2 linked regions of the Homo sapiens genome follow. The protein of the gene in region 1 purifies or fractionates together with the protein of each later gene. This does not show direct contact. Each region holds a gene or a part of one and is shown on either strand. Other genes may lie near its edges.

Region 1 (5,776 bases):
TAGAATAATAACTGAACTACATTTTGCTGCCACCTTCAATAGTTGGGGTTTTGGTACAGATATGTTGGATTTAGAGAAGAAATTAACATTTTATTTACACCTGAGTTTGAGAAGCTCATTCACACTGCACATGTTTAGAAAGTGTTTTTTAAGCTGTTTATGGTCTTTGAATCTTATATTTGGTGTATTTAGAGATTCTTATTTTGCTTTTTGTTTATGGTGAAATTTTCTGTGCACTCATGTATATAGTATGCGATTCAGTTTATGTGTGTGTAATCAAGTCTTTCAGTAATTTTCTTTGTGATGGTGCTTTTGTCTTTTTTTAATAAGAACATCTTTTATTTACTCAAAAACTGTGAAAAATATTCTGCATATTTTAATTCAATATCCTTAATATTGTTTTTAAAATATTACTTTGATTTCTAGTTCATCATAAATTGTAGACTGTGTGTGTATGTGTGTGCATGACATGAAAACTGGGATGTATGTTATTTTTTTCTTAATATAGAACCTACTGTTTCACCAGGTTTACTTCCTTTTCCAGTGTCAAATCTAGGAGAGAGCCAATCCTCATATATTCCATATTTCAATTTTCTTGCTATTTCTGATCCCTGAGAAATACCAACTTAGGAAATCAAACAAAACCAGAGGCCACATCTCAGTCTATACCTTCTAGACTCACACTAGCATTACATGAAAAATAGTAAATATCTACCTAAGTCCTTTTAAAATTTTGCAGAATTGTACATTTAAAAAGCTAAATAAGATATGAGTAAAATAAATTTGCAAAAACGTGCGGTCAGTTCTGAAGAGATTTCTGTGAACCCAGACCTGGTTTGACTTCATTTTTGTAAAATCAGATATGAAAATTACTCTATTTATGCTCCGAAGGTTGATTTTCAATTATTTAGAAACACTTGTTTTCTGTATGTCTAGTCTGTGTGCTGCTTTAAGCTCTGACACTCAAGTTTTTACAGTGGCCCTAAGGGAGGAAACGTCTTGAATTGGGCCAAAGGTGTGATATACCAGTGAACTTGTTGATTCTCTTATTTACTCACAAGGATAACATTTTTCCTCCAGATTTTCCCATCCTGATACCATTCTCAGTTCAATCATGGGTGTAAAGGTTTGAGACATAAATATTGCCTCAAAATGTTTGTGAAAATTTAATTTAAAGCTGGTTAAAACCTATATTTTTCTACTGGATTTAACTAAGAGATACCCTGGGATTTATTCACAAAGGTTAGTCTAATTCTGAGGATTGAAGATTTATAATCTGTCTTTTCTCAACCACTCAAACTAAGGCACAGATTTTCCTGATGCTGATGAAAAATGAGTTTACTGATATAAACATGTGGGAGTCTGGAAAATTATCACTTAATATTTAAGAACATGGCCAATCCAGATCTTAAAACTTGACTTCTTCAATGATATTTTGTTATTTTTTTGAATTTGTAAAATTGACAATTTTAAAGATTAGAATAAAAAATTAACCAGAAATATATCATTCAGAAATAACAACTTATTATTATTACATTTTTTCTTTTCTTTCCCTTGTAATCTATATTTCTGTTAATTGGGAACATGCTGTAGATGGAGTGTTTTGATTTTCCCCCAGCTAAACAGCAAAGCACGTTTATTACTTTCGGATTTGGTCTCCATTCCTTTTTTGTGTAATAGGGAACAGCCCTTCTATCGACAATTGGAATTCTGTTGGGTTTTAATTGTGTAGTTTTGCCTTTACTTCTCAAAGAGGACATGTGTTTCAGGTAGCCAATCAGAGTGCCCCACATCCCTGGATTTATTCATGTGACAGAAGCACAGCCAATCAGAAAAGTTATTTTCCATGTTGAGTGAAGGTGGCAGAGAATGGCACTTCCTACTGTGATCCTAAATATAAGGCTACAAAGGGGGCAGTGATTGACTCTGTCATTACATGGAGAGGCCCCTACATGAGAATAAAGTTAGTGTACAAAGGAGAGTAGAGTGGGAGAGAGTAAAAACAAGAGTCTAGTCAAGAATTTGATTTCTTTCTCCTGCTCTACCTCTTGGACTTCCAACTTCTGTGAGTCAACATAGTGCCTCTTGCATTTAAGGTAATTTGTTTGGAATTTTTCTCACTGTCAACCAGAGAGTCCTAGTACTATAATATTATATCACAAAATATTTCATATCTCTAAAGTTTTTAATGCTTTTTTTCTATTCTCCTTGTTTCTCAGATGATCTAAAACTTTATTGATTAATATATTTGTAAATTCTGAAAAATAGCCCATTCTAAGAATATACAATTCTATGAATATAAAATACTGTCTCAATAAATATTAGCTCTTATAATAATAATTATTATTGCAATGTGTATTGTCATTTCTATAAACACATCAGACTCATTTTAACCTTTCCCTTTCCCACATTTTTGGATATTTATATTTTAAAATTTCAATTTTTTTCCCTTTTAAGTAAAATTTGCTGTTTGTCTTTCAATATAAATTATTGCAACTTAGAATTCTAGCTATTGAAATGCTAGAGAAAAGTATCAGCTATTCTTTTTATTGTATTTCTCAAATTTTTCAAAAAAATTATAACAATTTCTTTCTGCAGAAACATCTCATCACACTCTTATCAGCATTGAGTTTGTAAGTTATTATAATTATTGCCAATTTAAAAGATTTAATTTAGTTTTTCCTTCTGTGATTGAGGCTATATAATTATTATATGATCATGATTTATTGATGCTTTATTATATAAGGTGTTCAAACAAATCTTTTTAAAAATTAATTTAATTTAAATCAGTTTTAAATTTAAATTTTAATCTTAAACTTAAATTTAAAAATTTAAAATACCACTTAATAATCCTTCTGAAACATATTGGTTCACCTACAAGCCCATAACTCATTCCAATCTTTTCTTTTTACTATAAACTTCTTATGTGTGTGGTTAAATATAGAGTTCTGATCTGGGGCTCAGAACTTGCATTTTAGGAGGAGAGACTAGATAGACAACCCCTCCAAGGCCTTTCTCAGTCTGCAATTCTAAGTTACAATAAACCTTCCAAGCAAGTTTAAAAGCAGGGAAGAAAAGCAGGGACTTGAACAGGTATTTGTGCACCCATGTTCATAGCAACATGATTCACAATAGCCAAAAGGAGGAAGCAATTCATCCCATTCTTCTTCCAAGAACATTTGCTGAAAGGGCCAAACGTTTTCCCTACTGTTTTAGGATGTTTTCTTTTTCACAAGTTCATTTTAATGCATATTAAGAAATTCCTTGTTCAACTTTAGTGAGCTAAGAATCACCTTTAAATTTGTTTAAAATGCAAATTTCTGGATTCATCCACAGAAATTTCAATTAGTGAGAACTGAGGAAAAACCAAGAAGCCTGCATTCCACAGGTAGGCCAGAGGCGTTTCTGCTGTGTGAGATTACCAGGCAAAAACTTCAGAAACACTGAGTGATCATGTTTCAACACTATTTATTCTGTGTTCTCCCTCCCTCCCTCCCTCACTGCTTCCCTGTCTCTCTCTCTCTCTGTCTCTCTTTCTCTCTGTCTCTCTCTCCTCTGTCTCTCTTTCTTCCATTTACTGTTAATCCCCATTTCTACCACCTGTCCCGGGCACCCTATAATCTACTTTGTGTTTGTCTCCGCAGTGAACATTTGAATAAGAAGAGGAATGAGTGTAGATTGCTTTATGAGATATCAAAATGTTTTATAAAATGATAATAAGTACAGGTACAGTGTAGTGCACCTGTAGGCCCAGCTACTTGATAGGCCGTGGGAGGATTCCTTGAACCCCGGAGTTCTGAGTCAGCCGAGGCAACACTGTGAGACCATGACTCTTAAAAAAAAAAACAGTAAAATGATAATAAGTAAAACAGTATATTATTGGCATATCAAAACACAATAAACTGTTCAGAAACAGAATTATTAAATATAGAAACTAGCTTTTAAAATTAGGGATGAGAGAATAGATTTTTTCCCAAATAATTGATGATGAGATTATGTATAAACCATGTGAAAAAAGACCACACTAACTTCTTACTATCTATTAAAATAAATTCCAGATGGTGAAAGATTTCTAAAAATCTATAAAAGTAACAAAATACAGTATTTAAAAAATTCACATACTTTGAGATGAGAAAGGATTTTGAGAAGAATGAAACCAAAAGTTGAATTCATAAATCAAGAATTAAGAAGGTTGCAGATTTAAAAAACAAAAGAGTATTCTGGACAGGCCCTGTGCATGTTCTCGGGAAGTAGAAAGGGCAGGGCCACAGCTGCCTGAATTCTGCTTTTCACACGTGTACTGTCCATGTTCTCTCCAGATCAAGATGTTGCAGAGGCTCCGCGTTCTTGTGAGAGTATGTTCCGAGCTCTCTGACCTGTCACCATGGGATCACTCTTTTGAAGAGACTTCCTGGAGGACACTGATGACAGTGTGAAAGCAGGGATGGGAGGAAAAGCAGGGAGGGGAGGGACAGTGTGGCACATGGCCGCCCCAGAGTGCCCATTCTCACATCGCCATTTTAGGCAACTTTTTCTTTTCTTTCCCATTCTCTGCACTCCTATGCTCAACTTTCCTGTCTCTACTTTCTGATGTGTTCCCCAACACCCACCTTTCTTTAATTCCATCATTCTCTAACCTTTCTACACACATATATACAAACTTAGTATCCAGCCTAGAACAGGAGGCTGTCCATCTCCATCACTGATAGATCAAGGTCTCCAGGTAATGACTGTTAGAGAATCACTCAGGTTGCCACCAAGTAGGACTTCTTTTACAACGAGCCTGGTAAGGTAAGAAAACTCAGGAGGTTGCTTCTGCAATTAAATAATTGGTTCTTCATGGAGCATGGACCAATTTGTCAAAGCACTCTAGGGGCTCAAATTCCGTTTTAGCACTGGCCATTTCAGTAGTCATTGTGTTTGACAGCCTAGAGAGAGAGATACAGTCTAGCCTTAAGAAGGGAAACCAGACTGATAGAGGCCATAGAATAGCAGCTAAGGACAGATGTGTGGAATTTAGACAAAAATAGGCTTGAACCAGGAGTCTGCCGGATCTAATGTGAGATTTTAAGCAACTTCCCTTCACGGAGAGATGTTAATAACTTTACACTTCTTTTTGCAACTTTCATTGTTATAATAACAACAATGCTAAAAATAATATATTTATTATAGGGTTGTTTGGATGATGGTGATAATGTACTTAGAGTGCTTAGTCTAGTGCTTGGCACTTAACTCCTCATTATGCTAGCTATGACTGTGTATCATTGTTTTTACTTTAGGGTGACTTCAAGAATGTATTTATCCCAGCTGCTCAAACTTGAACCTTCCTTGACCCCTTCCCCAAGGGCATCTATGGTCAAATAAGGGCAAGAGGAGAAAGAAAGACATGGTTAAGGAATTTTTCTTATCAAAGTGGAATGTTCGAAAGGGGAGGGTGGCTCTTTTCAGAGCAAGTTCTCAACTCCTGGAAAGGGAAAAGATGCATTTATTTCAGACGAAAGGAGCATGTGAGCCTCCTCTCTGCACCCTCCCTTTCTCCCCACTGCTGTCTTGATTTCCTTTCTCCTTCCCTCTCTCCTTAATCTCTCTCTTGCTCCATTTCTTCCTTGTTTCCTTTTCTTCCTCCTTACCTTTATTTCTCTCCCTTTCTCATTCTCCTTCCTTTCACCTTTTCTTCTCTTACCACAGCTCTAGACTGACTGTAGGCCTAGTAAGGTCATTTTTGTCAATAATTTAGAAGTATTCAGATCGATTATGAGTTGGTAATTTAAAAATG
Region 2 (4,269 bases), on another chromosome or scaffold:
ATCTCCATTTAGGAGCTATCTGTCTCCTGGATCCTGTGTTTGAGAAATGAGTTGGTGTCTTCACAGAATGAGGATCCCCAGAGCCATCTTGCCCGGTGCTGGCTCCCCGCATGTCTGTCCCTCTCTGGGTGGGGGTCGCCTGGTGGCGGTGGGACTCTGCGGCCGCGCTTTTGTGTGATGGTGCCTCTCCTGGTGTCTAACCTCAGCTCCTCACCTCTCGGGCTTCCTGTGGGAATTGAGAGAAGTGGGGAAAAGGGGAGGCCTGGTTGGGGCTCATGCTAGGGGCCGCAGAGGAAATAATCCAAAAGGGCGTAGGAGGAGGTGAAAAATGAAAGTAAAAAACAACTGTTTTCTATTTACAAATTTAAATAAACAGAACAGCCTTCCCCGCGGTGTTTGTCTAAGAGTAGCAGCGTTGCTGCTGTGTAGGTCATGAAAAGGTTGGTGTAGAGTTTAAAACTTCCCATTCTGTTAATTTCTTAAGGAACAGTCGTCCAGAGTCTCGGCACAAAAGCTCATGATTTAATGAGGAACAGAAACAAAATCTCTGATTGTTGGTGTTTCAAACTTCATTGGCGTCCTCTGGCAAGCACAAGTTGATCCCTCTGCAGCTTCAATACCCTTTAGCCTTCAATATAAGAGTACATGCTGAATAGGGAACAATGGCTGGTTGTTATGTTTATTTACCCTTACTACAAGCTGGGTTAACCTCTTCAAAACAGCTTTACTAAGCCCGTTAACCACACCACCCATCTGACCTGCAGCCGCATCTCTAATGTGATGCAAATCTCGCAGGGGCCACATGCACCAGCTCGGGTGCATTGTGTCTTCTGAGACGCTACAAGTTTATGACTGAGGGAGTCCTGTCCCAGCCATACATTTCCAGGGGGAAATAGCCTCAATGGCAAACAGTTAAACGGGAAAATAAAGGGGGAGAATGGATGGTCTTGTGTTTCTGCACATTTATTTTTTAATTGCCGGTAATGGTTGACTCACAGCATTCACCCAGGATGACAGCTTTCGTGTTCATCGTCTAGCGGTTCAAGGAGATGGATGTTTCGTTTTAGGGGTGGAGGTTAATAGTAACCAGTTTCGAAAGTTTATTTTCAGAAAGTGTCTTTTTAAGCCAATATAATACTTAGTATTCTTTTTTGATGCCATCTCTGTTGTTTTATCAGATTACTAGTGAAATAGAGATGACCCCTTAATGTTGCTACTATGTTTTAAAGGCCTGGCTTTTCTTAAAATTATTTGTGGTGTCAGCTGTATAAATGAACAAGCAGGAAACATTTACTAACATGAGAAGGGTGGAGGGAATATGTCTATTTGGGAAAGATCCATTTCATTAAAGACCTACCTTCGCCTCACAGCCCATCTTTCCCCAGGATCTTACCTCCCTGTGAAATCATAAGCCCATATTCGTAATACACTAAAAATGATAAAATCATAAGCTTGGATCCAAAGGGAAAAGCGTTCATTTTTTTAGGGGAATAACTGGCCAGTGAGACAACAACAACAAAATTGTGATTAACATGAACTGTAAATGGAGTCAGGTCCCAATCTGGCATCCTAACAAGTTGCTTTGAGTATTGTGGTTTGTCTTTAAGAACCCCACTGTATATGTTCAGCCCACCTGATGACAGCTTCATTTAACAGATCATTTTTCCTTGATGGAGGTGGCAAGCGTAACAGTGTTCTGGGCCTGCTTCAGTAATGGCATGTCGATCATACTCCCTTGGAAAGTAAAGGCCCCCTGGAAAACAGAGAATACAAACTTCCTGAAAGAATACTCGAAATTATAGGTTTCCTTTCTGTGCACACTTGTGCAACAAGAACATTTTAGATTCCACCTGAATTATACTGACTTTCCCGCCCAACTTTTGAGAAAGCCAAAGTAAATTACAGAGGAAACACTTCTTTTTTCCCCCTAAAGAGGGGAAAAAAATAAAAATCTTCAGCATTTTAATGGAGAGGAGAAACACATTGGACACAAGACAGCAAACTGTTCAGTTAACTCTTGAAATCAAGCAGAAAACAGCTGTGGAAGGAAAATCTAAATACTTCCCTATATATTTTTGAAATATTATGTAGAACTTTAAAAGCAAGAATATATTCTGGCAACTGATTATTGTTTTAAAAAATTGTACCATCAGGCTAATGGCAAAATCTTACCTCCTTGCTGTAACATAATTGAGAGGTAACATGATAAGGTTATGAGAAAATGCAAGGTAGGATTGTACAGGGTACAAAGAGATGAGTCTGTTGGTAAACCCATACAGAAGACGATTAGAGTGACCAGGGACGGCCAGGCGCAGTGGCTCACACCTGTAATCCCAGCACTTTGGGAGGCCGGGGCGGGCGGATCACCTGAAGTCAGGAGTTCAAGACCAGCCTGGCCAACACGGTGAAACCCTGTCTCTAATAAAAATACAAAAAAATTAGCTGGGCATAGTGGTGCACGCCTGTACTCCCAGCTACTCGGGAGGCTGAGGCAGAAGAATTGCTTGAACCCAGGAGGTGGAGGTTGCAGTGAGCCAAGGTCACACCACTGCACTCCAGCATGAGTGACAGAGCGGGACTCCATCTCAAAAAAGAAAGAAATACCAGGGACATGAGCTGTAACAAAGGAATCATAGATCTGTTGAATGTTAAGATGGGAAGGCATCTCTGAAATCTCTTGGAATAGTCCCATTTTACAGACTCATTTTTTAAAAAACTTCTACCATACTTATATAGACTGTGTCAAGTAACCTAAGCCCTGTTTTAGATGAGGAAACTGAGGCTCAGAGTAGTAAAAGAAGGAAAAAAAAAGAAGTGATCTTCCAAGGTCATGTGACTAGGGAAAGCCAGAGCTGGGGCTGATGCTTGGGTCTCAGAGCTTCAAGCCTTCATCAGAGATCCCCACATTAAGAAGACAAGGTAGCTTCTTTAAGTGCATCAGCAAAAGATAGATTAAACGGACAGAAAGCAGCATGCTCAGAACCCAAAGTTAATGTCTGGTTATTTGTGTTCTTTTCATCACTTCCTTTTGCTGCTTACGATGATATCCCTTCATCCTAATCCACCCTGCTTCGACCTGTTGGCAAGGATGCTGGTGTGACTGGGTTGCAGGGGTCCTTCGAGATCTGGGGGTGGCTGGGGCAATCCTAATGCACATTGATGATGGTCCATTTGCATCTATTGTAGCCCATTTCTGGATTTCACAAGTACCAATTCCCAACAGTCAATGCTGATGTCACTCAGGGCTGCCGGGACAGGAGTGCTGGGCTCTCATGATGAGGGCTGAGAGGTAGTAACTTACGGTTATACATAGGATGGAGGTAAAGAAAAATGGGGGGAATCCTTAGCAATGACTTTTGGGATTTATCTTTTGATTGAGAGAGATTCTAAGCCTACTAGGATTAGAATTTTTACCAGCAGTGGCCAACCTTTTCAGCCTTAGAAATGATGACTCTTACTCACATGAACACCTGTGTGGCCTAAACCTAAATTCCTGTACTGTAAGTCACTTCCCAGCCCTCTTGTTTTTACTGTTTTTACCCCTAGATTGTCCTTTCCATAATTTCATTCAGCCTCGAGCTAATTTTGGTCACCTCTGTGACCAGGAGGAATTTTCCTAATTTGGTTGGAAGTTCCGAGGTGGTCCTGTAGGTTGGCGTTACGTGGAAATCCGGGCCTGGGTCACATGCTGTTTTACAAGGCAATCGTCTAGTTTTCTTATTGGAGTAAATGATGAAGACCAAAGGCCTCTTGGTTATCCACCCACCAAGTGGGTTATGGCCCTGTAAAACAGCACATCTGTCCTGCTAGGGTTTAAACAATAGGCTGGGGAGACGAAATTAGCATAGATGCACAGGAAATCAAAACGGTGCGCAGAGAATCCAAACGGTGGCTGTGAGTCTGTGCCATGTTCCCGAACCTGCTTTGGGTTCCATGTGCACATCAAAGATAAAAAACACTTCATGTAGTTTTTCAAGACTGGGAGATTATTTCTTCTATGGTCGCAGGTTTTGCTTGATTTTCTTTAATGAAGCTTAAGGTGCAAAACGAAATGTAGCATTTTTCTTGTTTCCTGCATCACTGCAAATGGAGGATGGTAGTGTTATGAATGAGACTGCCTAGCGTGAATATCCCCAGGCTCTCACATAGCCACCTATAATTTAGGTGGTATTTTTTTAACATGTGGGTCTATAGGTGAGATGAAAAATAGTCTATTGGTCAGGATTTAGAAAAATGCAGTTCATCAAAAAGCTACTTGGATTTTTGAGG

Evidence for each region.
Region 2: the proteins of RNASE9 (region 1) and CLYBL purify together in Homo sapiens (affinity purification with mass spectrometry; one large-scale study listed by BioGRID and IntAct). This does not show direct contact.

What each region holds. Positions count from the first base shown.
Region 1 is NC_000014.9:20,557,194-20,562,969, reverse strand, and holds the start of RNASE9 (inactive ribonuclease-like protein 9), read left to right. Parts: upstream 1-1,922; 5' UTR 1,923-2,096; intron 2,097-2,598; exon of another isoform or gene 2,599-2,633; intron 2,634-3,336; 5' UTR 3,337-3,388; intron 3,389-4,319; exon of another isoform or gene 4,320-4,354; coding exon of another isoform or gene 4,355-4,355; exon of another isoform or gene 4,356-4,429; coding exon of another isoform or gene 4,430-4,430; intron 4,431-5,776. UniProt on the Homo sapiens protein: Does not exhibit any ribonuclease activity.
Region 2 is NC_000013.11:99,888,802-99,893,070, reverse strand, and holds the end of CLYBL (citramalyl-CoA lyase, mitochondrial isoform 1 precursor), read right to left. Parts: intron 1,754-4,269; coding exon 1,658-1,753; 3' UTR 1,634-1,657; exon of another isoform or gene 948-1,633; intron 649-947; exon of another isoform or gene 629-648; 3' UTR 501-628; downstream 1-500. UniProt on the Homo sapiens protein: Mitochondrial citramalyl-CoA lyase indirectly involved in the vitamin B12 metabolism. Converts citramalyl-CoA into acetyl-CoA and pyruvate in the C5-dicarboxylate catabolism pathway.